Linked DNA regions of Homo sapiens: regions 1, 2 and 4 are each linked to region 3. Evidence: fine-mapped expression QTL. A gene starts in region 3. Each other region holds a variant in brackets. All regions are shown on one strand. Distances are from middle to middle. Region 1 overlaps PLXNA2 (plexin A2). Region 2 has its middle 75 kb from the start of LINC01735. Region 3 holds the start of PLXNA2 (plexin A2). Region 4 has its middle 170 kb from the start of LINC01735.

What was found. PIP is the estimated chance that this variant, and not a neighbour inherited with it, causes the effect.
Region 1: its variant is fine-mapped to the expression of PLXNA2 in lymphoblastoid cells (GTEx, PIP above 0.99).
Region 2: its variant is fine-mapped to the expression of PLXNA2 in whole blood (TOPMed, PIP above 0.99).
Region 4: its variant is fine-mapped to the expression of PLXNA2 in whole blood (TOPMed, PIP above 0.99).

The regions. Positions count from the first base shown.
Region 1 is chr1:208,185,805-208,191,955 of GRCh38, reverse strand. All of the region lies in intron 3 of PLXNA2 (plexin A2), which reads left to right. Among named protein-coding and RNA genes, the nearest start is that of PLXNA2, 56 kb to the left of the region's middle. The variant G/A (reference allele first, on the strand shown) is at 2,543.
Region 2 is chr1:208,536,114-208,542,264 of GRCh38, reverse strand. No RefSeq gene overlaps it. Among named protein-coding and RNA genes, the nearest start is that of LINC01735, 75 kb to the left of the region's middle. The variant C/T (reference allele first, on the strand shown) is at 3,366.
Region 3 is chr1:208,241,707-208,247,857 of GRCh38, reverse strand. PLXNA2 (plexin A2) reads left to right here and starts at 3,474. Exons shown (of 32, transcript NM_025179.4): 1 at 3,474-4,215. RefSeq lists a silencer at 3,357-3,416 and enhancers at 3,935-4,434, 4,435-4,936.
Region 4 is chr1:208,443,466-208,449,616 of GRCh38, reverse strand. No RefSeq gene overlaps it. Among named protein-coding and RNA genes, the nearest start is that of LINC01735, 170 kb to the left of the region's middle. RefSeq lists enhancers at 3,566-4,066, 3,226-4,425. The variant A/C (reference allele first, on the strand shown) is at 3,104.

The DNA of each region.
Region 1 (6,151 bases), 56 kb after region 3:
CTCGTGGATCCCTGACCCTGACACGTCTTCATGCTTGTTCTCACCTCGGGGCTTTGTGTGCAGTGTTCTCAGACTAGGAACCCCTCGCCCTGCCCCGTGCCCAGCTAACACCTCCTCATCTTCCACATGCTGATACACCACCTCCTCTAGGAAGCCCCCATGTGCTTCATAGCACCCCAATTATGTGGCTGTCAGAGCAGGAGAGCACTGCGTTTAAGAAGAGTCCAGGCCTTGGGGCCAAAGTATCTGTGTTCAACTCTTGATTCTCTCCCTTAATATCTGTGCGACATAGTGACAATAACCTCACCTCTCTGTGCCTGTTTCTTCATTTGCAAACTGGAAATAATAATAATTTCTGCCTCCCAGGCTCATTGTGAGGGACATGTAAATGAGTTAATACATGTAAAGCATATAGATCAGTGTCCAAAATAGAGTGTGTACTCAGGAAACAGTAATATTATTGTTGTATGTACTATTATAATTGTCCTTTTTCTTTTCTCTCTCCCTCCCCTCAGTACGCGCCACGATTTTAGGATAAGGGCTGCATTCATTATCTCTCTATCTATAGTAACAGCTAATATAAAAGACATTCAATAAATGTTTTAAAAGAAGAAAAGGAGATGAGAAAAGTGGGGAGGGGGAAGAAATCCTAGGACAGGAGCCATCTCTCTGCCCCAATTTTGAGGCACCTTCTTGATGTGAGTCAAAGGCGCTTGCAGATGTGTGCTGTGTTTCCGCGTGAGGCAGGACCTCCGGGATTCTTACCAATGTTTGTTGCTGGCCATGGGCAAAGAACAAGGTTCTTGGGGAGTGCACATGATTCAGGCAGTCACATCTCATACACAGAAATTCAAGCCAGCAGTGCTGCAGCCGAATCCTTTTGGGACCGCCCTTTTCCAGAGGGAAAAATCCTTTAGCCTCACTTAGCTCATAGCCTCCCTCACCTGTCAGTGCCCCACCTGCAAATCCCAGCAGATGGCAGGTCTGCACTGAAAGACAACTACAGAGGATTCCATCAACCTTCTGGGGTCCAGGACTGAGTAGACTGTACTCCTGCCACCAAAGGTTCGAAGATGCAGAGCAACGCCCATTATTAGAGTGTTCATTCATACAATTATTTACTCACTCATTCAAAAACAATGACAATTACATATGGGCCTGCTATGTGCTGTCAAACATATTACTTGTTGCTAATATCTGTATTAATTACATCAAGCTAGTGGTTTCCAACTGGAGGTGATTTTGCAGACATTTGGCAGTATCTGGCGATGTCTTTTCATTGCTATGTCTTGGGCAAAGAGAGCTATTGGCGTCTAGTGGGTAGAGGCCAGGGATACTGCTAAACATCCTACAATGGATGGGACTTCCTCCCCACAATGAAGAATTATCTGGTCCATGATGTCGATAGTACTGAGGTTGACAAACCCTGATCAAGGCAACCAACATTTCTGGAGCGTCAACCATGTGTCAACCACTGTGCTAAGCACTCTTCATTTGATCTTTCTAACAGCCCTGCAACATAGGTACTATATTTTTTGAGATAAGAAAACTAAGACTCAGGGAGATTAAATTATTTTCCCATTTATTCACATAATATGCAGTTATTAAACAACTCAGTGGGTAGTGGATTTGAAAAGCAAACCCAGGTCTTCTAGCCCCAAAGTCTACTCATCTACAAAAGCATGCTAGCTCTCTGCACAAGGTCAGAAAGGAGAAAACATGACGTAAGTAAGTGATGGAGAAGCATGAGTTTTGGGAGGAAAATGTTGTTCATAACTGCCACTGGGAATGAAAAAAAAATCCCTTTTCTGCCTCCTTCTCTCCCAGTCTACCATCTATACTCATATACACACACATACACAATCGAACAAAATCCTTGAGGCCCCAGTTTGCCTTCAGGGTGACTTCGGTGTGGGTGGTAATTTTAGCTTGAGATTCCACCCTCCTTCCCCCACCCCAAAATGTTTCTCATCTTACACATACAACCACACTTTTGGCTGGGAAGAGGGTGGAGATATTTCTCCTGCTCCTGAAATGTCTTCATAAAGATCTTCTCTCTGCCAACCTCCAGCTTCTCCTCGTGCTGATTTAGTGCCTGCTGTAGGAGGTGTGGGATTTTATTTGTAGCTCCTGACTGGCGGGCTGTTGGACAGGAGCTGTGTGTGTAGTGGGAAGAGTAGGGACTTTGGCATCAGACTATCTTGGTTCAAATCCTATCATCTAAGAGGATTATATTGGGTAAATCAGTTAGCCTTATTGAGCTTTGGTTTCTTCATTTGCAAAATGAGAATGATGATACCTACCTTGCAGCGTTGCTCCAAAAGTTAAGTGAGGTCAGTTGTGTTCATCTTTTAGTGCAGTACTTGGCAAAGAGGGAATACTCAGGAAATGCTAGCCAGTATGCTCATCCTTCTGCCTCAGCCCCAGGTTCGCTTTTTTTTTTTTCTCTTTATCTCTTCTCAGGAGCTCAAAGAGAAGGGGAGGAGGAGTCAGGGTTCCCTTCTGGTGGGCCTGCTGGACCATGCTTCCCTCCCTATTCTGG[G/A]CCTCCTGTGGGGCCCTGTGTATAGCTCAGCCCAGGCCCTTGAGTCAACCACAAGATCACTATCTTTGCTCTGCCTCTGTTTAGAGTCAGGTAACACAGACCACAGCTGCCACCACCTCCCCAGGCATGATCATGTGAGTGACAGTCATCACCATAAGACTCTCCCACTTCATCCCTAACTTAGCAGAGATTCACAACGTGGCTGGAAGTGTTAAGCAGTGGTGCTGGTTCACCCTGTTAAAAATGTAGCCTGAAATCATTCAGGATCTTAAGGCTTGGAGGGATCCCCAAGATGCCTTGTCCTTGTGATTGTCCTCATGACTGTCTTTTTGCCCTTTTCTTTGCGCTTCTCGTAGAGAATGTTTTGGAATGGTTAGAGACAGAAGGGAAACTCATTCATAGAGAACCTGCCATGCACCAGGTCCTTTCCATCCTAAGGTGGCTTATCCCTTTTCCTGGGTGCACTACATCCAGCCCATCTGGGGCTGGAGTACATAAGCATTGCTCTACAGAAGAAGAGGAGCTTCCACAACCCTCTGCCATCTTATCTTTGGTGACTTCTGAAACTGCAGGGTCCAGAAGATCCAACTTTACACATTGCAGTATGCAGTATACTCTCACATTTCTCCTCTCATTTAGTTCTCATAGCAGCTTGAGAGGTTGGGATTCATAGCTCCATTTTTTTTCTTTTTTTTTTTTTTTTTGAGACAGAGTTTCATTCTTGATGCCCAGGCTGGAGTGCAGTGGTGCCATCTCAGCTCACTGCAACCTCCGCCTCCCAGGTTCAAGCAATTCTCCTGCCTCAGCCTCCCGAGTAGCTGGGATTACAGGCAACCACCACCATGCCCAGCTGATTTTTGTATTTTTAGTAGAGATGGGATTTCGACATGTTGGCCAGGCTGGTCTTGAAATCCTGACCTCAGGTGATCCTCCTGCCTTGGCCTCCCAAAGTGCTGGGATTACAGGCGTGAGCCACTGCGCCCAGCCTATATCTCCATTTTGCAAATGGATTGAACTGAGATTATTGAGTCAGTAAGCAGTGGATCCTAGGCATAAATCCCTAGTTTTGTGGCTCAAAGTTCACAGCCTCCATGAGGGCTCCATACCTTTGTTGTGTCTTTTCTTCTATCCTACCCTAAAGCAGGCATTCAGCCTATCTTGCTAGAACCTCGTGACATGTAATCTCTGTAGGTTTTGGGCTACAGTAGGTGTAAAGGACAATAGGACATGGGTTCTTTCCTCAGGTGCCTAGTTGAAGGCATGAGATAAGCTTGCCTCCTTTGTTCTTCCCCTCAAGACGTGATCTGGGGGCTCCATTCTCATAAATATTCAGGTGCGCGTCACTGGTGGTGGTGCAATGTGGAGCTGGGGGAGAGAAGCCCAGAAATCGGGTGGGCTGAGCTCAGTCCCAGCTCTACAGCCACTGACCTTGGGGAAATCACCCCAGTTCTCTTATCCCTAAAATGGAGACATTGATCATTTCAGTTCCTCCTTCACAGGATCGTGGGGCAATTTAGTGAGATGATACGTGTGAAAGCAACAGTAACTGCACACCACTGCACAAATGTAAGGGTTAGTGCTGCCTTCTCTCTGCTACCTGACCCATCTGATCAGCAGCATCAGAAAGAACCTAACACCTGCAGGTTTTATCCCGCAAGTACATGGCCTGGTAATGCTCTGAAGGTGGAGAAAATACTTGCCAGGGACTTTTACAAGATCCTGGTCATTGTGCTAACAGTAAGGGAAACAACAGTCCAGATAGGACAGAGTACCTTGCAGACGTCTTCGCATAGCACTGGCTGGTTTGCTGTCTCTAAAAAATTTTTTATCTTGTGAGAGTTTCAGGTTTGCTTTCATGAGTCAGCTTTAGGGAAGTAAGCTGAAAGCACAGTGCAGAAAAGATTTCAGAGCTCGAGTTGTTCAGGTGGTGTTCTTTGGAGCGCATTTGTTGTTCAGGCTGTTGCTCCTGCTTCCCTCCCTTCCAAATCCAGCCTCCCTACGGTCTCTCTCACACACACAGAACCAAGATCAGCCTCTCTGGGCTATGTAACAAAAACCATCTTTCTCTTGCTGGTCCATGACATAACCCTGCCAGTCTGGGAGCTATTACTTTTTCCAGATGTGGAATAATTGCAGGGCTAATCACCCCTGGAGACTGCTGGGACCCTTCTCTAAGGGTCTCCAGGTCCTTTCATTTAATCCTCATGACAGTCACTAACAATAAAGAAGAAAGTGGTAGATGCTGAGTGAGGAGCTAAGATATTTGTCCAGAGACACAGCAAGCTGCATGTAATTCTGGTTCAAAATTCTTAGGTCTGCAAAAAAACTGAAAAATGTCTCTTGTCCCTCCCCCACCTTCCTACAGGAAGGATTTTGTACAAAATAACATTGCAGGCCGGGCGCGGTGGCTCACGCCTGTAATCCCAGCACTTTGGGAGGCCGAGGCGGGTGGATCATGAGGTCAGGAGATCGAGACCATCCTGGCTAACAAGGTGAAACCCCGTCTCTACTAAAAATACAAAAAAAATTAGCCGGGCGCGGTGGCGGGCGCCTGTAGTCCCAGCTACTCGGGAGGCTGAGGCAGGAGAATGGCGTGAACCCGGGAAGCGGAGCTTGCAGTGAGCCGAGATTGCGCCACTGCAGTCCGCAGTCCCGCCTGGGCGACAGAGCGAGACTCCGTCTCAAAAAAAAAAAAAAAAATAAAATAACATTGCAATTCCCAGGACAGCCCTTCATTCCTTAGCTACTTCTCTACAGATGTGGGGCCACCTACTCTCCCCCTATCCCATTTTCTCCATCACCGCCTCCTGCCTCCAAGCCTACCTTTCTGAAAGATGTTCTTGACACTGTCATTAAACAGCTGCCAGCAACACCTGCTGGCATTCTCTGTTGCAAAGATAACAACCCAACTTTAAAAAGAGAGAATACAAAACAAGAAAGGCTATGGGAGGTGTGGTTGTGGGTTTTGGTTTTATTGTGTTTTTTTCCGTTTGTTTGTTTTTTTGCCAAATTACATTTTGTACATTTCTCTGTTGATTCTCTTATTCCTTTGCATTTTCTATTCTCTATTTATGAACCCCCTCTCCCAACCCCCACTTTAAAAATCAAGAAAAGGAAACCTGTTTCAGGATTAAATATGGTGTCAACATGTGGCTAGGATCTGAATACCTCAAAGAGAAGTCACAGGGGTTGTCTCCACCTACCCAAGCCTTTAATGGTGGAGAAGGAAAGATGGATTTAAAAAAGACGGAGGAGCCAGCCTTTTCCTCCTACCCTCCTGGGCCTCCTTCCAACAAATGATGATGCAGGGTGATGAAGATAGCGCTCTCAGAATCTGTGCCTAGTGATAACTCCCTCAGAAAGTCATGGGGATGCTTTCCCCACCTGTGCGTGTACACTGGTGTTTCTTCTGTTTATGCAAGGAGTCATTGCAGGGAGGGCTACATCTAGTCTGCTGCCCCAGTGGTTGCTAAGTCTTGATAGACACCACCTCTATCTGCCCTGCCCTCCTGCTCACCCACAGAGATGTGGCCCATTCTGAAACCACCAGCACCTCTTCCTTGCCACACCTGTCTCTAAGTGCCATTGGATCCCACTGCACAACTAATT
Region 2 (6,151 bases), 290 kb before region 3:
AGGGGAGGCCTCTCTGAGGAGGTGAGAGTTGAACAGAGCTATGAATGAAGGGAGGGGAAAGCCATACAAACATCAAGGGAAAGGATATTCTAGGCAGAGGCAGTAGAAAGTGCAAAGGCCCTGAGGCCAAAATAAGCTCAGGGTGTTTTTCACTTTAGAGTGAACGGCAGCCTGTGGTCCAACCTGCAGGGTATAAATGGAGAGGAAAGAGCCAAAGGTAGAGTGTAAGAAATAAAGTCTGCAAGGTAACTCAGGTCCAGATCATATAGAGACTTGGAGGCCACGGTCAAGGACTTTAAATTTTTTTCTAACTTGATGAAAAGCCATGGGAGAGTTTTGAGTAAGAAAGTATTTATTATATGTCTGTGGGAGCTTAACCTTTTAATATATTTCCTCATGAGAACTACAGCTCTGCAAGATAGAAATGTGTACAGAGGCATCTCTAGGCTCTGTCTCTTGCTCCAGCCACTTCTGCAGAACCCGCCTGCAAAGGCCTCCACCAGCTTTGCTCAGGCACAGCCTGACAGCACCTCCTCCAGTCTCACCATGCACCTCTCATTTCCTGTCCTAGAGCTTCTCTGATTTGCAGCTTGGCACGCACACAAGTGCAACCTGCAAGTGCCAGTGGTTAACGCCAAGTGGGGATCACCCTTGACTAATGGGTGACAGAAGCTAATGGATAAATGCTTCTCCTTTTGTTCCCTGGACAGCTCATTTTGATTTGGATTTCATAATGCCGCTTAGAAATTCTAATGGAATTGAGCACCAGTCTCTTGTGCAGTATCCAAATCCATAACTCCTCCTTGCATTGCCTGCCCTCCTACACTGATTCACTCCTCCCCTGGCTTGGGTTCCTTCTTCTGGGATCACATGCCCAAGTAAGCTCATAGGTGTGTTTAGCAGGCCCTGCATTTAGAAGAATACAGGATAAGGTGGTATGATTGTCCTTGCTTTAAAGATTAGGAAGTAAAAGGTTAAATAAATTGTTCCAGGTCACACTGGAGTCAGAAATGGGACCCTATTCAGCTGATTCCAACAACCATGACCTTAACCACTCTTCTATGCTGCCTCATACTCAGAATTTTCCACATAGCAGTGTTTCAAGGGTGGATGGCCCTTCCTGTTGGAAACAGAGACATCCACATGCCAGCAAGGAAGATACAGCAGATTGCCAGGATGAGCAGGGTTTCAAGGGCGGCCCATCTTACTGGGACTCAGGGAAGGGTCCTAGCACTGAAGAGAGGCTCATCACTAACCAGGGACTGAAGAAGAAGTCTGAATTTGTGGCTTGGGAAATGCTGTGGGTTACTGGCAGGCTGTGCTCAGGGAGCAGGTGGTGCCAGGTCCTCACTCGGCTATCCTGGATGCCAGTCCTGTGGCAGCAGAATGAATTTCAGAGCCCCCCCTGCAGGAGGCAAGTGAAGAGTCTCACTTGGTAAGAACATAGGTATGTGTGAGGTAATTAACATCAGGGTTATTTTAAATATAGATGTAGTCAGATTGATAAGAAGCAAAGCATCATAATAGCTAAAAAATAATAACTGCTTTATCCAGCACTTATTTGTCCCAGGCACTGTGCTACGCACTTTGCATCTATTATCTTTTCAGCAACATGATGATGTAGACACAATAATTACCTAAATTTTAACTATCAGGATTAGAGTGGTTAATTCAGCAAATGTCACACTGCTAAGTAATAGAACTGGGGCTCAAACTAGGTCTGTTTGACACCAAAGCCTTTTCTTCTCAATCAGTTTTCTAGAATGCCTGAATGAAGACTCTTTTTTAGGAGGCCATGAACAGCTGTTGCAGATGTTGAGCCAGGACAGTGTGGGTAAAATTATTCTAATGCCAATATATACATTAAAATAAGTCTAAGAAGAAACCATTAGGAGGATATTTCAACGGTCCAGAAGAAGGTGACACGAAATGATATTAAGGGGGTGGCCTGTGAGTAGGAAAGATGAGATCTGACTTAAGCGAAGCTGTGAAAAAAGAATCTTTGGGGCCAGAGTACCAATTAAAATAGAGCATACGGGAAAGGATGGAGTCAGGAAGAATGCTGAAACTGATTCTGATTAAGTAATGAAGCTGCCATTAACAGAAATAGGGACACCAGCAGGAGCTAGAGGGCAACGGTCAAGTCTGTTTAGTTGACAAAGGTCTTTTGCGGAAAACATATCCCAAAGGCTGATTGAATTTTGGTTCTTGGGCTCAGAAACAGGACTAGATCTGGAGATGCAGATTTAGCAACCATCCATTAGTCCCACTGGAACCCTCCAGTGAGGCCAGCTAGATAAACCTGTCCCGGCAGCCCAGCCCACTCATGCATGGGAGCCTGGATCCCCTCACTTCTCTTGCCCACCTGCTCTTTGCTTACTCAGTCCAGAGGTCTATGTGGTTTTCACTCTGCTCTGTCACTTTCAACAAGAGATTCACACATGACCTGCCTTGCCCAGTTTGGATTCCAAGCTATTTGACAGTAGGGACTACATCTTGAACTTCTTTTTCTTTTAATGCCAAATGGTATTCTAGTAGGTTGTTAGCACAATACCCTATTGGGCTTTTCATTTTTATAAGAACAAATTCTGAAATGCAACACAGATCATCTTTCTATTTAAGTTTGGGGCCATTTGAAGCAGCAATGTATAAATTCAAAGCATTCACCTAAAGTGCCTTCATCTGCATCATTTTAACCTCAGTCTTCACAGGTCTTCCTCCACCCTCAACCCTTAAGACTTATTAATAATCAACATTCGAGTCTCCCATTCTTCTCTCTCCAATTTCTACCCTCAGGCAGTTGAGACGTAGGAGCTTTGCAATTAAATTCTCCCCTCCAGCCAAACTGACCCCAAATCATACTTATGAAATTGCTCGTTTATCGATTGTGTTGTTTTTGTTTCTCCATTTTATGTGGGCACACAGGGCCCTGCTCACAGGCAGGGTTGCTGTGCTTGGAAAGGTGATCTCCTTAGGGCACTAAAGCCGCGTTGGACAGAGAGGAGCTTAGCCTTTCCTCCTGTCAGATCTGCAGGTGGCTTTGACCACCACAGCCAGTTTATGACTGCCTGTGGGCAGTCTCGGCCCTCAGCTAATGTGTAGAACAGGCAAGGCAAATCTGCGAAATCCTCCCACCCACTTGCCCTGTCAGCACCATTCCTGCTGACCAGTGCCTTCCTTGCTGTGGCCGAACCCTCAGGACAGTGCCCCACCAGCTCTGTCTTTGTCAACCGCTCAGTACAATGTGGATGTGTGGAGTGGCTACTTACGAGTTAGGCCCTGGGTGAATTGTGCAGTATTCCACAATGAACACAGCACAGTTCTCTCTTCTCAAGAAGAACCAGGTTTAATAGGAGAGGCAAATA[C/T]ACAAACAGGAAACTACAGTACAGTGTGGCAAGTGCAATATTAAAGAGAAGTTAATGAGAACAACAGACAATGGGTGCGTAACCTGCGCAAACAGGAAACTACAGTACAGTGTGGCAAGAGCAATATTAAAGAGAAGTTAATGAGAACAACAGACAATGGGTGTGTAACCTGCGGGGAAGGCAGAAAGGGCTCTCAGGTGCAGAGCTGACATCCGTTAGCCATGACATCCGTCAGGCCACAGAGCCTGTGGCCCACAAAAATGCTTTAATTTTAATTTCTTTTAAAACAAGAATAGATGATTATAATAATAACGGCTAGTAACAATGAATTCAGCCTACATTATACGCATCTTCATGCCAGTGCTGTTATCAAATAGAATTTTACATTTTTTTTTTTTTTGGAAGAAGAGCCCACAAAGGCCAAATTGCTTAGGACCAGCAAAAGTGGTACTGTGACCCTGCCTCACGAAGAAACTAGGGCAGAGTAGAAGATACACAGGCAAAGTAGGAGAGGTCTAGGCGAGGGACCAGTGTAAGCGTGTGTCAAGAATATCAGCATGATGCTAGGGAACAAGCCGGATATGGGGAGTCGTGAGAAACTAGGTAAAGATGTAGGCAGAGATTTGCTATATTAAGAACCTGGAATTAGTCCTACAAGCCTGTTCCCTTCCATACTCCCACGTACCCCACAACACGAAATCAAAGTTTGCTAATCCTGTGCCCCATTCTCTCCCAGCTAATATTTTCCTTAGAACATAATCTGGGTAACTGCAATGTGCCAAATGTCACTGCCCACAAGCAGCTTTCTATGCCACCTCCCATCTACTGACAGCAATGTCTTAAATAAGGAAATATGTTTCCAATGGCAGGTGAGGAAGGGGATTTAGGAGCAGGAATGCTCTGGGCTTTCCACTGGACTCCTCTGCCTGCATCAGGGCATCTGAGAGGCTGGGACCTCTCAGAAAGGCTGGTGACAGGCCATTGGCGGTCTTTCTCTTTCTGGTTACAAAGTGCCCAGAGGTCTGCTCACTCAACAACTATTTTTGAAGCATGAAGTGAAAACAGGATGAAAGAACAGGAAAAAGTGTCCATTATGCAAGAAGAGAAGAGCCTCCCCCCAACCTCCTAATGTGTATGTCATTTAAATACCCTTGTGAGAGGTGTTCATTATTTCCCCCATTATTTAGAAATGTGCTTCAAAGACCCCTCCAACAGCGTCGTGCCATCAGTTGTTTAAACACACGATTTGTTAAATCACTACCCTCGGAGCCCTGGAGCTTAGGGGTTATATTGTCTCAGAGCAGACACAACTCGGGGGTCACCCTGCTGCTGCTGAGGATTGTCTCAGCAACTCCCCACCGCATCCTGATGGTTAATAAGGATCAGCTTTTGAAAGGCAAGGTCAAAAGGAGAACTAAGTGACTCCTGGTGCTGGCTGAGGGTGCATGAGTTCATTGTTCCCAGCGGCTGGTCAGTGCCCAGTGAGGAGAGAGCCCATTGTTGCCAAGCAGCCTGAGAGACAAAGCCCAGCCCAGCCATCAACCTATGCTGGGGGCTAGATGGGGGTTTCCAGAAGGAGCCAGTCCTTGACTTTAGAAATAATTCTCTTTAGGATAACTTGTTTTCATGAAAATGGGAAGCTACAAAAAGATGCATTAAGTGTTGATCATGTACATTATCAAAGAACACCTTTAAGCATCTGTTCCCCTGAGTACACGAAAGTGTTTATTTACAGGTCTTTAAACTGTAGGATAGAAATGCTCATAGCAAGCCACTGATTATAGAAAATCAAACTGAGATGCATTCATTGATTTGAGAGGAAAATAAGAATAATGGGGAGAAAGGTTTCAAACTTTAAAAAAATCAATTTATGTAAATTGATCAAAGAAGATCTCCGCTGCATAAAGAGAAATATGTCTCCCCTTTCTCCTGTTTTTGGCATAGCAACTGTCAGCTCTTATCTGCTCACTGCCTTTTGTGTCCCCACACACCAGTCTACAGACCTTGTCTCTGCATGGCTACTTCACTAAAAATGCAAAATTCCCCTGGGAACCAAAGGTGAACCCACAGAAAAGTAGATAAAGACCTTGAGGGAGCAAGTCACTTAATACCTCCCTTCATGCATTTGCGGAAGGGCTTGGCAATCTATAGGTGGTAGCTATTGTGTTGTTGGGAGGAGAATTTCTACCACCACTGAGTGCGGAGGCAGACCTCAAATGATTCCCCTTCTCAAAATTTCTTTATGCAGTTAATGGCACTGCAGATCCACAGTAAGCAGGCTCAAACTCTTTGAGATAATATCAATTACTCCCTTTCCTTAATCCCTTAGATGCTGTCTGCCACCAAATCCAACCTATTCTTCCCCGGTAATCGCCTCTCACATTCAGTTCTGCCCATCCCAGGCCTTCCTCACCTAAGGCCTGAAAATCTGCAACAGACTTTTATCTCCTTTTCATGATACCCTTCATTCTCCGCATTTCTTAAAGTTTAGTCTGTTCAATTTCCTGTCGTGCTACAGTGGGCAAACCACAGAACAGTCCAGGCTGAGCTCTGGTTCCTAATGATTCCTAATCATTTCCTTTTGATGGTCCTTTCTCTGGCATGGGGTGAAGATTATGCCTGCAGCTCCTTCCTGTTGTCTCACAAGCCTGAGCTCTCCATCTCCTATAAGCATCACTTCAAACAAGCACACAGACATTCGCAGAACAAGCAATGATTTGTGGGCACAGTTCAGTCTAAACTCATCCTTAGAAAACAAGCATCTCTTCAGAGGAAGGAGCCTGAGG
Region 3 (6,151 bases):
TGCCAAAGTGTGGCTGGCTTCCAGCACCAAAAATACCTCCTGTGATCCGAGGGGCTACTGTACTGGCATCTATTTGTGGGGCTGGAGCTGCTGCTGTGACATAAAGGACTTCCCCTAGGGATGGGCTAGTTGCCCATTTGGGCCTGTGCTCCCCAAAGTCTAAGAGCTTGCTTTCCAGGGCCAAGGCCTGCTCCCAGCCTGGAAAATGCAGGTGGCAGCATCTTAGCCAAACCTGCCTTCCACAGGAGAAATATTCATTCTTCACAGGAAACATTCTGTGGCATTCCAGAATGTTGGTGCCCTGTCCTCTCCCACTTCTCTCATTCTCTTGCTTAAGTAACCCATCTAGTTACTTAGCTTGCTTCTTTGACAAGCAAAGAAGAGGCCTGGGGCCTGGAACAAGAATGCAGAAGTGACAAATGACTTTCAAGGTGAGGTTCCAGGAATATCTTGACTAGGGAAGGTAGGTAGGTTGGGGTGAGTGGAGAACCCTGTTGAGTGTGCTATGATTTTCCAATGATGAGGATTTGGCATAAGATAAACATTTCCCCATTCATTCATTTGTTCATTCATTTGATAAATATTTGTTAAATATCGACAGCCTGCTCACAAATATGTTGCACTACATCTATCCTTCCAGATGGAAATGAGGACGAACTACAAGGCCCTGACAGAGGACTGGTCAGTCCCAAGGGGCTGTGGGCCTGATATCAGATGGACAGAATGAGGAAGAATATAGTGAAGGGCAGAAACATACAAGAAAACCAGAAACCTCAGAAAGAGATAGATCTGAGGTTATAGAATCTGTAGGGTTATTGCCATGCTTTCTTTAAAAATATGTGCCAAAGCAGTAATTATGGACTGTATATAGTTCCATTAAAGGAAGAAATTTAGTAAATTTGCTCTTCATAAATATTTGCGTAATAAATGAATGAATACCCAGATCAAAGGGAGAAGGTTAACGAGCAGATGTAAAGACTAGAGGTTCAGGTATACCGCTGTTGCCTCAGAGGATGTCAAATCTAAATACGAACCATGAACCCAAGGTTTTGGTTTTTTTTTAAATTCTCAGAGCATGTTATGGTAATTAGATGTTTAGCTAATAAGATCCATATTTGTTCTAGCCTATTAGGACTAAATATAACAACAATCTTTCCATTTTGATGATACTATTACTTCTTCCAACACGCTTACATATATCTATTTTAATTCCCCCAGTTGTCTGGAGAGTGAAGACAGAAATTCCCATCTTACAGATGGACAAACTGTGGCCTAGAGAAGTTAGAGGTACTTCATCCACTGTACCTCCCAGTAGATCAAGTTAGCGCTCTTTCCATTGCTATGCTGACCACAGGCTCTTCCATAGTCTCACAGGACTCAGATCTTAGACCCTGTTCAGTGGCAATGTGGAATCTGGATGGCGTCGTGCCACCCTGTCAGCCACAATGTGTCCTCCCGCCTGTGTTCCCTCTTTCTCTCCCTTTATTCAGGAAAGAGAGGGGAGGTGTGGGGATAAAAGATGGGGTGAGTGGAAGAGTCTGTTTCATTTTATGCTTCCTTGCTCTTCATTCTAAGATTTATTTCTGGACCACAGGAGTGGAGGGTGGCATATGAGAAAATTATTTCAATTGTATCATAATCTTCCCAAGGTGTGATTAAATTGAGGCATAGGGAAGAGAGGTGACCTCTTCCAGAGTCAGACACCACTTGATTTAGAACCAGAGGGCCCTAATTTTCAGCTTGGAGCTTTATCAATTAGATATCTCCAATCCTACCACGGCTGGTCTTAGGTGTAGCTGGCCAAACTCCATGAACAAATGGAGGAAGTGTTCCAAAATCTTCTAGCATCTTCTTCAAATCATCTTTTTTAATAAATTGTGGTTTAGATTCAGTCTACCCAGAGATAAAACGATCGACTAGTCTGTCTGCATGGGGAGACAAGATCTACTTATAAAAATAAATAAATAATAACACAGGGTAAATATGATAATTTATTGGTGTGTTACCAACAATGAATGCTAAAGAAGTTTGAAGGAAAGAACAGGTATGGATCAGGCAACACAGCTTAGACAGATTCTTTGTGGTCCCACAGGACAAAACTAGCAGTAGCCAGTGAAAGTTACAGGAACACAAATTTCAGCTAATTACAATGAAGAACTTTTGAAGAATTCGCTGATTTCTGCAGATGTTGGAGTAAAGCCTAGATCCCCCAGTCCTGTGTTGAATGTGCGATTGTTCGAGATGACTGGTTAGTCTAGATTTCCTTTTCTTCTTCCTCTCTCTCTCTCTTTTCTCCGGCTCCCTTTCTTCATCCTTCCCTCCCTTCGTTTCTTCTGCCGCTACTGCTCTAAGAATTTGGTGCAATTGCTTTTAGGTATTCGCAGTGATTTTTGTTGTTTTTTAGATTTATACCACTGAGGACTGTGGCCACGAGAGGGCAGTAGAGGAAGCTTATCAGAATACTTGGACAGGAGTAAACTCGTGTGCGCTCTAATCGCGAGCAGGGACTACGCAGATCCTGCGAACTCGCTGGGGTCCAGCTTGCAGGCCGCTTCCGGAAAGCCGTGTCTAGAGGCTGCGGAGTTACTGAGACTGTGTGGCGAGGAATCAGTGGCCTTGAGGGCACCGAGACATTGTCATCCAGAATCCCGAAACCTCTCACCTTAGGTTATTAAAATAAGTTATCTTATTGCCACCCCTCTGATTACCCTGCCAGAAAGATTCTCTGAATTGGATATAGAAAGCTCTTCTCCCGTCCCCAATGCCCCCATGCAAGTCGGGACTTACCAGATGCCCAGGATCCCTATCAGGGCTGGAAGTTTGAGATTCAATTCAGAGCAAGGTTCATCTTCTCATTGCAATAATAATAATAACAACAACTTCAAGCCTTATTTGACAGCTTGTTGGCCTTTTTCTTTTTTTAATTTACAAGAAGAGGAAATTTGCTCCCACAAATTCCAAGACTCTAGTCTCAACCCTACCAGACAAGCCCCGTTCCTCCCCACTCACCCCTCACTCAAATTACAGATGAAGAGGGAGGTGTGCAGGATGTGTGCGGTGACAGGTGATGCGAATGGGGGGGATTCCCTGTCCCTACTGCCCTCACCCACTCTTCCTGTGTTCTGAGCTCCCCCCTAACCCCAACGCTAGACCTTCTATTCCCCCGGGGGCCAAGCCAGCTGGGCTCGCAAGGCCCGACTCGAATTCCCGGGCCCTGGCAGCATTTTCCTTGCCCCCTTGGCTACTTAAGGTGGCCGATGGGTCCGGGCTGAGCTGGGCGCAGGACAGGCAGCCGAGCGGCCTCCGGATGCCAAACCTGCTTCTCCTTTGTTGACAGCTTGCGGAGGAGGAAGTCCGCGCGGGCGGGGGAGGGGGCAGGGTGCTGGCGGTGGCGGGCGGTGCCAGCAGCGGGCGCGGCCCCAGCCCGGGCGGACGCGGCCGGCGGGGAGGGGGTTAACGCGCGCGGCCTCTATGATAATGAGCTGCATGGTGAAATAGGGAGGCCGGCGCTCAGGGCTCCTCCGCCGCCGCCGCCGCCGCCGCCGCCGCCGCCACCGCGGGAGCCAGAGCTGCCGGGAGGAGCGGCATCCGCGCCAGACTGGAGCGGGAGGGCGGCGGAGGGCAGTTGCTGGGAATTTTTCAGCCGAGAGGGCGAGCGATCCGGAGAGAGACCCCGAGAGCTTGGGAGCGGTAGGGCGTGCGAGCGCCGCAGCCAGCGGAGCAAACCTCGAAATAGATCTGGAAAGCCAGGCTCCCGGAGGAAATGGGACTGTGAACGAACCGGAGAGCAAGAAGGGAAGGAAGCGCCGGGATTGCTGATGTCAGAGGAGCCCGGAAAGTCGCGCTGGAAAAATCTGAAGACAGCCGGGGCTCTGCTTCTTCCTCAGGAGAGACACCGCCGGCCGCCCCCACACGCCCCCTCGGCGCCTCCGGGTGCCCCCTGAGAGCCGGCGACAGCGCCCAGCCGGGCTGCTGCGGGGCGACGGAGGACTGAGGGGCGCGCGGAGCGGAGACCGAGGAGCGACTTCAGGAATACAGATAAGTGTCTGGTGGCTTGACGTGGATTTTAATGAATTTGGACTCCATGTGGATTTGGTCGTCTCCCTGATTCCGAGCTGCGGGCAGGGAGAGGGGCCTCGCGCCGCCCTCAGCAGCCGGCGGCGGCCGAGGTAGACCGAGCGGGGACGGAAGGACAGACCGACGTCGCCGAGCTGGGTAAGCGGCGGCTGGGCCGGGCGCTCGGAGTCGGCAGCGCCCTCCGCCCTCTCCCCACAGGCGCGCACACCCGTGGCGGCTTCTCCCGCGCCCGCCTCTTTGGGGTCCCGGCCCCAGAAGACCCGGCTTGGCCGCGGCGGGCGAGTCCCCGCGTGGGCTCGGCCACTTTCGCGGGCTGGAGCGCGGCGTGCGCGCGATCGCAGGCTCACTGGAGCCGCTGCCTCCCGCCGAGGGCTTCCCGGCCGGCAGCCCGCCGGCTTCCCGAATGCGGGCTGAGGGCGGCAGCAGCGCTCCGCGGCGCGCCTCCACCGCGCACCTGCCGGCGCTCTGCGGCTTTGGGGAGCTCGGGGCGGCAAGGCTGTCCTGAGAGCTGGAGCCCAAAGAGGGCCTCGGTGGCACCAGCGAGACAGCCCAAAGCCACACTGGCCAGCGATCGATTTGGGGGCGTTCACTCCAGTGCCGGGGTCCCTGGTGGCCGCCGGCTCTCCCTTCCGATCGGGGACTGGAGATCAGGGGAATGGGAAAACATCATTTGCGCGGGTTCCATAAGGCTCAGGGAGAGATTCCTAGGCACTGAATGGGTCTAAGTGTTTCATCTCCCGGGGCTCCCTTTGCGGTGTATCGCCCAGCAGGGGTCCAGCCCCTTAGTTTGAGCACCACAGGAGTGCTGGGGGTTGAAATGGGAGTTTGCTTAGGGTCCCAGAGGCTCCTTATGAACCATTTGAGAATGTTTCCTTCCATGTGCTCTTTCTTGCCCCACCCCACAAGTGAGGTAGGGATCCTAGAAAATTCTAGCCCTTTTTATCCATCCCACAGGTAGTCTCTATAATGCCAATCATGGTCTAGATGCCCAGAGAGTCACCAGAAACTACCATTTTAGATCCCCGAAAAAAGTCCACCTGTTTGGAATGACCCTTGCCCTAGTGGGAGCTACCTACTCAAACTCAGCTCTGCTCAGGAGGGATAGAAATAATGGTGGGGAGGAAGTTGGATAAAAGATTTGGGGCTCTAGGTCAGTAAGGGTCTAGAAATGAGAGCCCCATGAAGTGGGCAATGGAAATCTGAACAGGTCCCCTGTAGGAATCTTAGAGTGACAGTGGCACACCAGTAGAAAGTGCACAAGGGACATGAAGGCAGCATCAGTTTGAGGGGACTGGGACTGCCAGTCATAGCTTGAGGCAGTCACTTGGGGGCCCATCAGTTTGGAAGAACCCACAGAAATTTGGGGGCACATTCATTTCCTTCCATTCACGCGCACAGTGGACAAGGCTTATGAGCGGCAGGCCAAGATGAGTATCTTGGCTGGCCTGGGCTGGAGGCTTTGAGAGCAGGAGTCAGGTTTAGCTCTCCCCTCTCCCCACACAATAGCAGTCTCCCTCCTTTGCTGGGCTTCTTTCCCAGATCTTGAAACTTCACTCTTCCCTCTGGGTTGGCTTTGGATTCTGGGGCCTTCTACTGATTGACAGAGCCCCAGGAAGAGATAACCTTGGCTGGAGGAATTCAGCTATTCCTAACTGAAATGCACAACTTTTATGCAATAACCCCAGAAAGCTCCCAGAGTTGCTTGCAGCCCTCTCCCCTCTGACCTCCAGGCAAGAAAAGAGAAGAATTCATTAACTTCCCTCTCTCTTCACGGAGCACCATTTGAACTAATTACCTGGGATCTCTCCTTGGTGGTGGCCTGGAGGCTGAAGGGGCAGTGAAGAGAAAGGGTAGGGAACCAAGGAAACAGTGGAATCTGTCATAGCGAGGTTGTTTTTCATTCCCCTTCTTCCACCTGGCATCACCACCAACCCCTCCTCATTCCAGAACTTGCCCCTGCTGCCACCAACCAGCATTACCTAAAGGAGCTATTTCCCTCCACTCCGCAGCCGATCGTCTTCAGGGACCTGCTGATAAAGGGAGGGCAATGCAGATTACCCTCTCTGCTCCCTCA
Region 4 (6,151 bases), 200 kb before region 3:
GTGTTTCCTCCCTATAGGCCAGTAGAGATGAAGTGGAACGGGCATTCTGCTGGTGGTTGTGGGGGTGGTTGCAGGTAGAAGTTTAGGAATATTTGGGAAAGGAAAGGCAGACTAATTTGAACAGTGCAGAGGAATTAAAGAAGTCTATAAAAATACTCAAATATTGGGCCAGCAATGGATATACAGAGCTAATACCAGATATATTATTACATTAACAATTCTACAATATACTGGGATATTATGCAGCCATTAAAATAACTGTAAAGACCAAGCAGAAATGTGGAAAATGCTAACTGTACAATGTTTAATAATAAAATAATAACAAACTAAAACAGAATACTAAGTACTCTCTTGTACTTTGATAGTGTTTTCACATAAAACTTTCAGTTAAAATTGTTTAAAAGGAAAAAATAAGTCCATCCCCTGGGCATAAGCATGACTATATTTACACTGTTCCAGACAGATGGTTTTCTCTCCTCTTCTAACAGATTTCCACAGAGGGAACTCTAATGCCCTCCCTCTGTTATTTTAGTGCCTTGCAACCCTATTTTTCTCAAGTCTACCCTCATGTCCCTACTGATGCAATTTCACCCCACAGTTGGCTTCTGTCTCTGTGAGCAAACTGCTGGTTTAACATTTTTAACATGCTTTGGGATCCAGGGATCGAGAAAGTAAGATTGTCATTCTTCTCACCTTCTTGCATTCTGCATACCTGCTTTTGATACTTTTGATATGACTGAGGGGGTGGAAGGAGGGAAGGTAATGACAGAGAAAATACTAAGTGCCGTAATTCACCAAACCTATTATTTTCCAATTTTACGCTTCTCTTTCACACTACTCCCAATAATTTCACATAATCTCCCAATATTATTCATATGTAGCAATTGTTAAAAGCTCCCATACCTTAGCATCTCCACCTCTCCTCTAACGTTTGTCATGGTAATGTCACATACCTCTCCTTTCAGACGTAGTTACTATTATCTTCTCACCTTCCCCCACCTGATCCCATCCTGAATAACATGTCTCTTGATGAGGTTATAGAAACCACATCTGTTTTTCTCTTACAAGTAGATCTCAATAGCACTCATTAAGACAGGCCTTTGCCCATCCTATCTGATTCTCTCTTTCCAGGATGGTACCTAGCGCTGGCATATATGGTCACTGCTTAGCTGGGCAAAGGCCTGAAATGCCAGTGGAGAAGATGAAAGCAGGGCCTTAACTGAAATAGGATATAAAAGAGGCCATGGTTAAATCAGTAGAGCGTAAAAAAAATGAAATGAACAAAAGAAGGTGGGGATGTCTAAACAGAAACAGATGCCATGAAGCAAGGTCAAGAACAAGCCCATTGGTTAGTCCCCAGACCTGTAGCCACTGAGTAGGAAAGGCAGCATGAGGACAGACATCTGAGCTTGGAATGGGTGGTAATTTCAAAAGAAGAGAAAGTCAGAATCTTCTGCTGATGTCCCTTTGGAAGGTCCACCCTCTCCCCCTTCCCTTGTTTTTTTGGGAGGCACTCTGAACCTGATATCTGATATTCACATAGGGGGAGCTCTGTTACTGCCAGCCTCTAATTTCCCTTTCTAGCCAGGCCTTTGCCCTCTCTCCTCTGCCCTCACTCTCGCCTTCTGTCCTGTTCCACAACCCAGCTGGCCATTCCTCCACACTCAGAGCTGCTTATGCCTGAATGCAGTCCTCACCTTCCGTATCTGAGACACTCCCAGTCATTTGCAAGGCTCACTTTTTGACACACTGTCCCTGGTACCCCTGGGAAATTTATAACTTCATCTTCTGGACTCCCATGGCATTTTGCAGAGGTCTCTGTCGGAGAATGTATCAACATGTTATAATTGCTTGTCTGCATGTCTCTCTCTCCCACTATATATGAAGATGCTTAAAGACTGACTACTTTCTTACTCACCCTTGTGTTCCTGTGCCTGGCACATTGATTGGCACATCAGAGGTGCTTATGTGTTTTCTTTAAATGCCAAAACCAAATATTACTTGTTGAATTTTCACCTAGTTTTTTCATTCTCCTCTAAAATCTTACAAATCAAGAGAAGCAATGTCCCAAGACAAACAATATGACACCTAATAGATGTGTCTATTAACAGCCAGCCAATGTCCTCAGTCAATAATAATAATAATAATAATTAGCATGCCCAGATACTGTGTTACTGTTTAGCCCTTTATTCCCAGGGCTTTTTGTCTAGGGAAGGGCTCTGTCTCCGTCAGAGCTGGGGGCACATGCAAATCTATTTTCTGAGACTAGCTCTGTGGAGTATAGAGTGAGATTGTGAAATTCAAAACACACCTGGGAAATTCAGACAAGATCTCAATAATAAGGACTGTAATCAAGGAAGAAACCCTTAGTTAAGCAAATAATTTGCCTTGGGAGAAAAAGGCTGAACATGATGTTCTTCACACACAGGGACTTTAGCTGGCATTTCATCTTCAGTCCGAATAGTCCTTGCTGAACAAACCTCAAAAATGAAATATTTACACTATGCCTGCCACCAGTAGAAATGGTCTTCCAATCAGAGAAGCAAGCTGTGGGAGGTGAATGAATGTCTTGAATTCAAAAAAGATACAAAAAAAAAAAAAGAGAGAGAGAGAGAGAGAGAAAGGACAAGTTTAAAATTAAAGAAAAGTGTTATCCAAGGGTAAAGAAATTTGACCTGAGTTCTCCCCAAGTGAGGATAACATGAATGGTAATGAGTCCTGTCTTATCTCTGCAGTTACGGGGATGATTTGCAGACATCAGATTTTGTGATGTTACAGACATGGTTCCCAACTTCGAAAAGCAAGAAAAAAAGTGGATGCAAAATAATATACTTGCATTGGACAAACAATAGCCAGATAACTGTATATCACAGTGAGATATAATGTCAGGTTTAGAATCAGATAAATTGCAAATAACAATGGAGAAACAACTGAACCTTGAGGACTCTCAGCAGATAAACCAGATGAAGTGGATAAAGACTCGCTGTGTGGAGAAGGCAGGGCAGCCCACGCAGAAAGGTGGGAGGCAAGTAGACAGAGGAGGTGGTAGAGCGGTGATGGAGTGTGAGCATCTAGATAAAAAGCTGCAGTCAGCTTCCCAAAA[A/C]TCAGGGAAAATAATAGCCGGAAATAATAAAGTAGAATGGTAGCAGTGTCAACTGTGATAAGCAGATAATTTGTTACTCTGGACAGCCTGGGGCCCCTTTCCAGAGACAGGCAGAAGTCCAAGTTCCTAGACTTTCAGCCTGTGCAATCAAGAAGGAAAGAAGTAATGCAAAGGGCAGCAAGAACCACAGAGAGGGGGATTTCAGGATCATGGCAGACGGGAGGGAGGACTAGATTGCAGCTGGGAACAGAGCAGCATGCGGGGGCTTGCACTGTGAATTTTAGCTCCGGATCAACAGCAAGAACAAACCAGCAATCCTGAGAGGACCCACAGACCCTCTGAAGGAAGCACACTGCTACTGCAGGACCCGGGAGACACCTCAAATATACTCTGGGAGGCGGAAAGCGTCGGCAAGTTTTCAAGCCCGTCTAGCCCTCTGCCTGGAAACAGACTCAGGGCTGTTTTGGTGGGGCACCGTGGGAGGTAAGATCAGCCCTTTGGTTTGTGTGGGAGCTGGGTGAGGCCTGTGACTGCCACTTCCCTGACTGCCCTTCCCTGACAACCTGCATGACTCAGCAGAGACAGCCATAATCCTCCTAGGTACACAACTCCAGTGACCTGGGAATCTTACCCTATCTGCCACAGCAGCTGCAGCAAAACCAGCCCAAGGAGAGTCTGAACTCAGACACACCTAGCCTCGCCCCCACCTGATGGTCCTTCCCTACTCACCCAGGTAGTGGAAGACAAAGGGCATATAATCTTGGGAGTTCTAGGGCCCCACCCATTGCCAGTCCCTCTCCACACTGCTACAGCTAATGCTTTCTGGAAAGTGACACCTCCTGTCAGGAGGCCGACCAGCACAAAAATGGAGCATTATTTTTTGCACAGAGTCCAATGCACCCTCTGCCACCTCCACCAGAACAGGTGCTGGTATCCAAGGCTGAGAGACCCACAGACGGTTCATATCACAGGACTCCGTGCAGACAACCTCTGGTACCAGCCTGGAACTGGGTAGACTTGCTGGGTGGCTAGACCCAGAAGAGAGACAACAATCACTTCAGTTCAGCTCACAGGAAGCCACATCCACAGGAAAAGGGGGAGAGTACTAAATCAAGGGAACACCCTGTTAAGGGAGGAGACCACCCCTCATATTGTGTTATGCCCAATTTCTGCCTCCAAAGAAAGAAGTAAAAACTAAAAGGCAGAAATGAAATCCACAGGCAGACAGCCCAGCGCCATGCCCTGGACCTGGTAGTTAAAGATTGACGCCTGACCTAATTGGTTATGTTATCTATAGATTACAGACATTGTATGGAAAAGCATTGTGAAAATCCCTGTCCTGTTCTGTTCCATTCTAATTACCAGTGCATGCAGCCCCCAGTCATGTACCCCCTGCTTGCTCAATCGATCACGACCCTCTCACGCAGACCCCCTTAGAGTTATAAGTCCTTAAAAGGGACAAGAATTGCTCACTTGGGAAGCTCGGTTTTTGGAGTCCTGAGTCTTGCCGAAGCTCCCGGCTAAATAAAGCCCTTCCTTCTTTAACTCCATGTCTGAGGGGTTTTGTCTGTGGATTGTCCTGCTATGCTGTGGGACAAAAGAATCTGAACAACATCCTTCAGCCCTAGACCTTCCCTCTGACAGAGCCTACCCAATGAGAGGGAACCAGAAAACCAACCCTGACAATATGACAAAACCAGGCTCTTCATCACCCCCCAAAAATTACACTAGTTCACCAGCAATGGATCCAAACCAATATGAAGTCCCTGATTTACCTGAAAAATAATTCAAGTGGTTAGTTATTAAGCTAATCAGGGAGGGACCAGAGAAAGGTGAAATCCAATGCAAGGAAATCCAAAAAATGATATAAGAAATGAAGGGAGAAATAGTCAAAGAAATAGATAGCTTAAAGAAAAAAAATTAAAAATTCAGGAAACTTTGGATACACTTTTAGAAATGCAAAATGCTCTGGAAAGTCTCAGCAATAGAATTGAACAAGTAGAAGATTGAAATTCAGAGCTCGAAGACAAGGTCTTCAAATTAACCCAATCCAACAAAGGCAAAAAAAAAGAATTAGAAAATATTAACAAAGCCTCCAAGAAGTCTGGGATTATGTTAAACGACATAAGAACAATCGGTGTTCCTGAGGAAGAAAAAATTCTAAAAGCTTGGAAAACATATTTGGGGGAATAATCAAGGAAAACTTTCCCAGCCTTGCTAGAGACCCAGACATGCAAATACAAGAAGCACAAAGAACACCTGGGAAATTCAGCACAAAAAGATCTTGGCCTAGGCACATTATCGTCAAGTTATACAAAGTTAAGACAAAGAAAATAATCTTAAGAGCTGTGAGACAGAAGCACCAGGTAACCTATAAAGGAAAACCTATCAGATTAACAATAGATTTCTCAGCAGAAACCCTACAAGCTGGAAGGGGTTGGAGCCCTATCTTCAGCCTCCTCAAACAAAACAATTAGCAGCCAAGAATTTTGTATCCAGTGAAACTAAGCATCATATGTGAAGGAAAGATACAGTCGCTTTCAGACAAACAAATGCTAAGAGAATTCACCATTACCAAGCCACCACTACAAGAACTGCTAAAAGGAGTTCTAAATCTTGAAACAAATCCTGGAAACACATCAAAACAGAACCTCTTTAAAGCATAAATCACACAAGACCTATAAAACAAAAATACAAGTTAAAGAGCAAAAACAAAAAACTAAGTATGTAGGCAACAAAGAGCATGATGTATGCAATGGTACCTCACATTTCAATACTAACATTGAATGTAAATGGCCCAAATGCTCCACTTAAGAGATACAGAACTGCAGAATGGATAAGAACTCATCAACCAACTATCTTCTGCCTTCAGGAGACTCACCTAACACATAAGGACTCACATAAACTTAAAGTAAAGGGGTGGAAAAAGGCATTTCATGCAAATGGACACCAAAAGTAAGCAGGGGTAGCTATTCTTATATCAGAGAAAACAAATGTTAAAACAACAGCAGTTAAAAGAGACAAAGAGGGATATTATATAATGGTAAA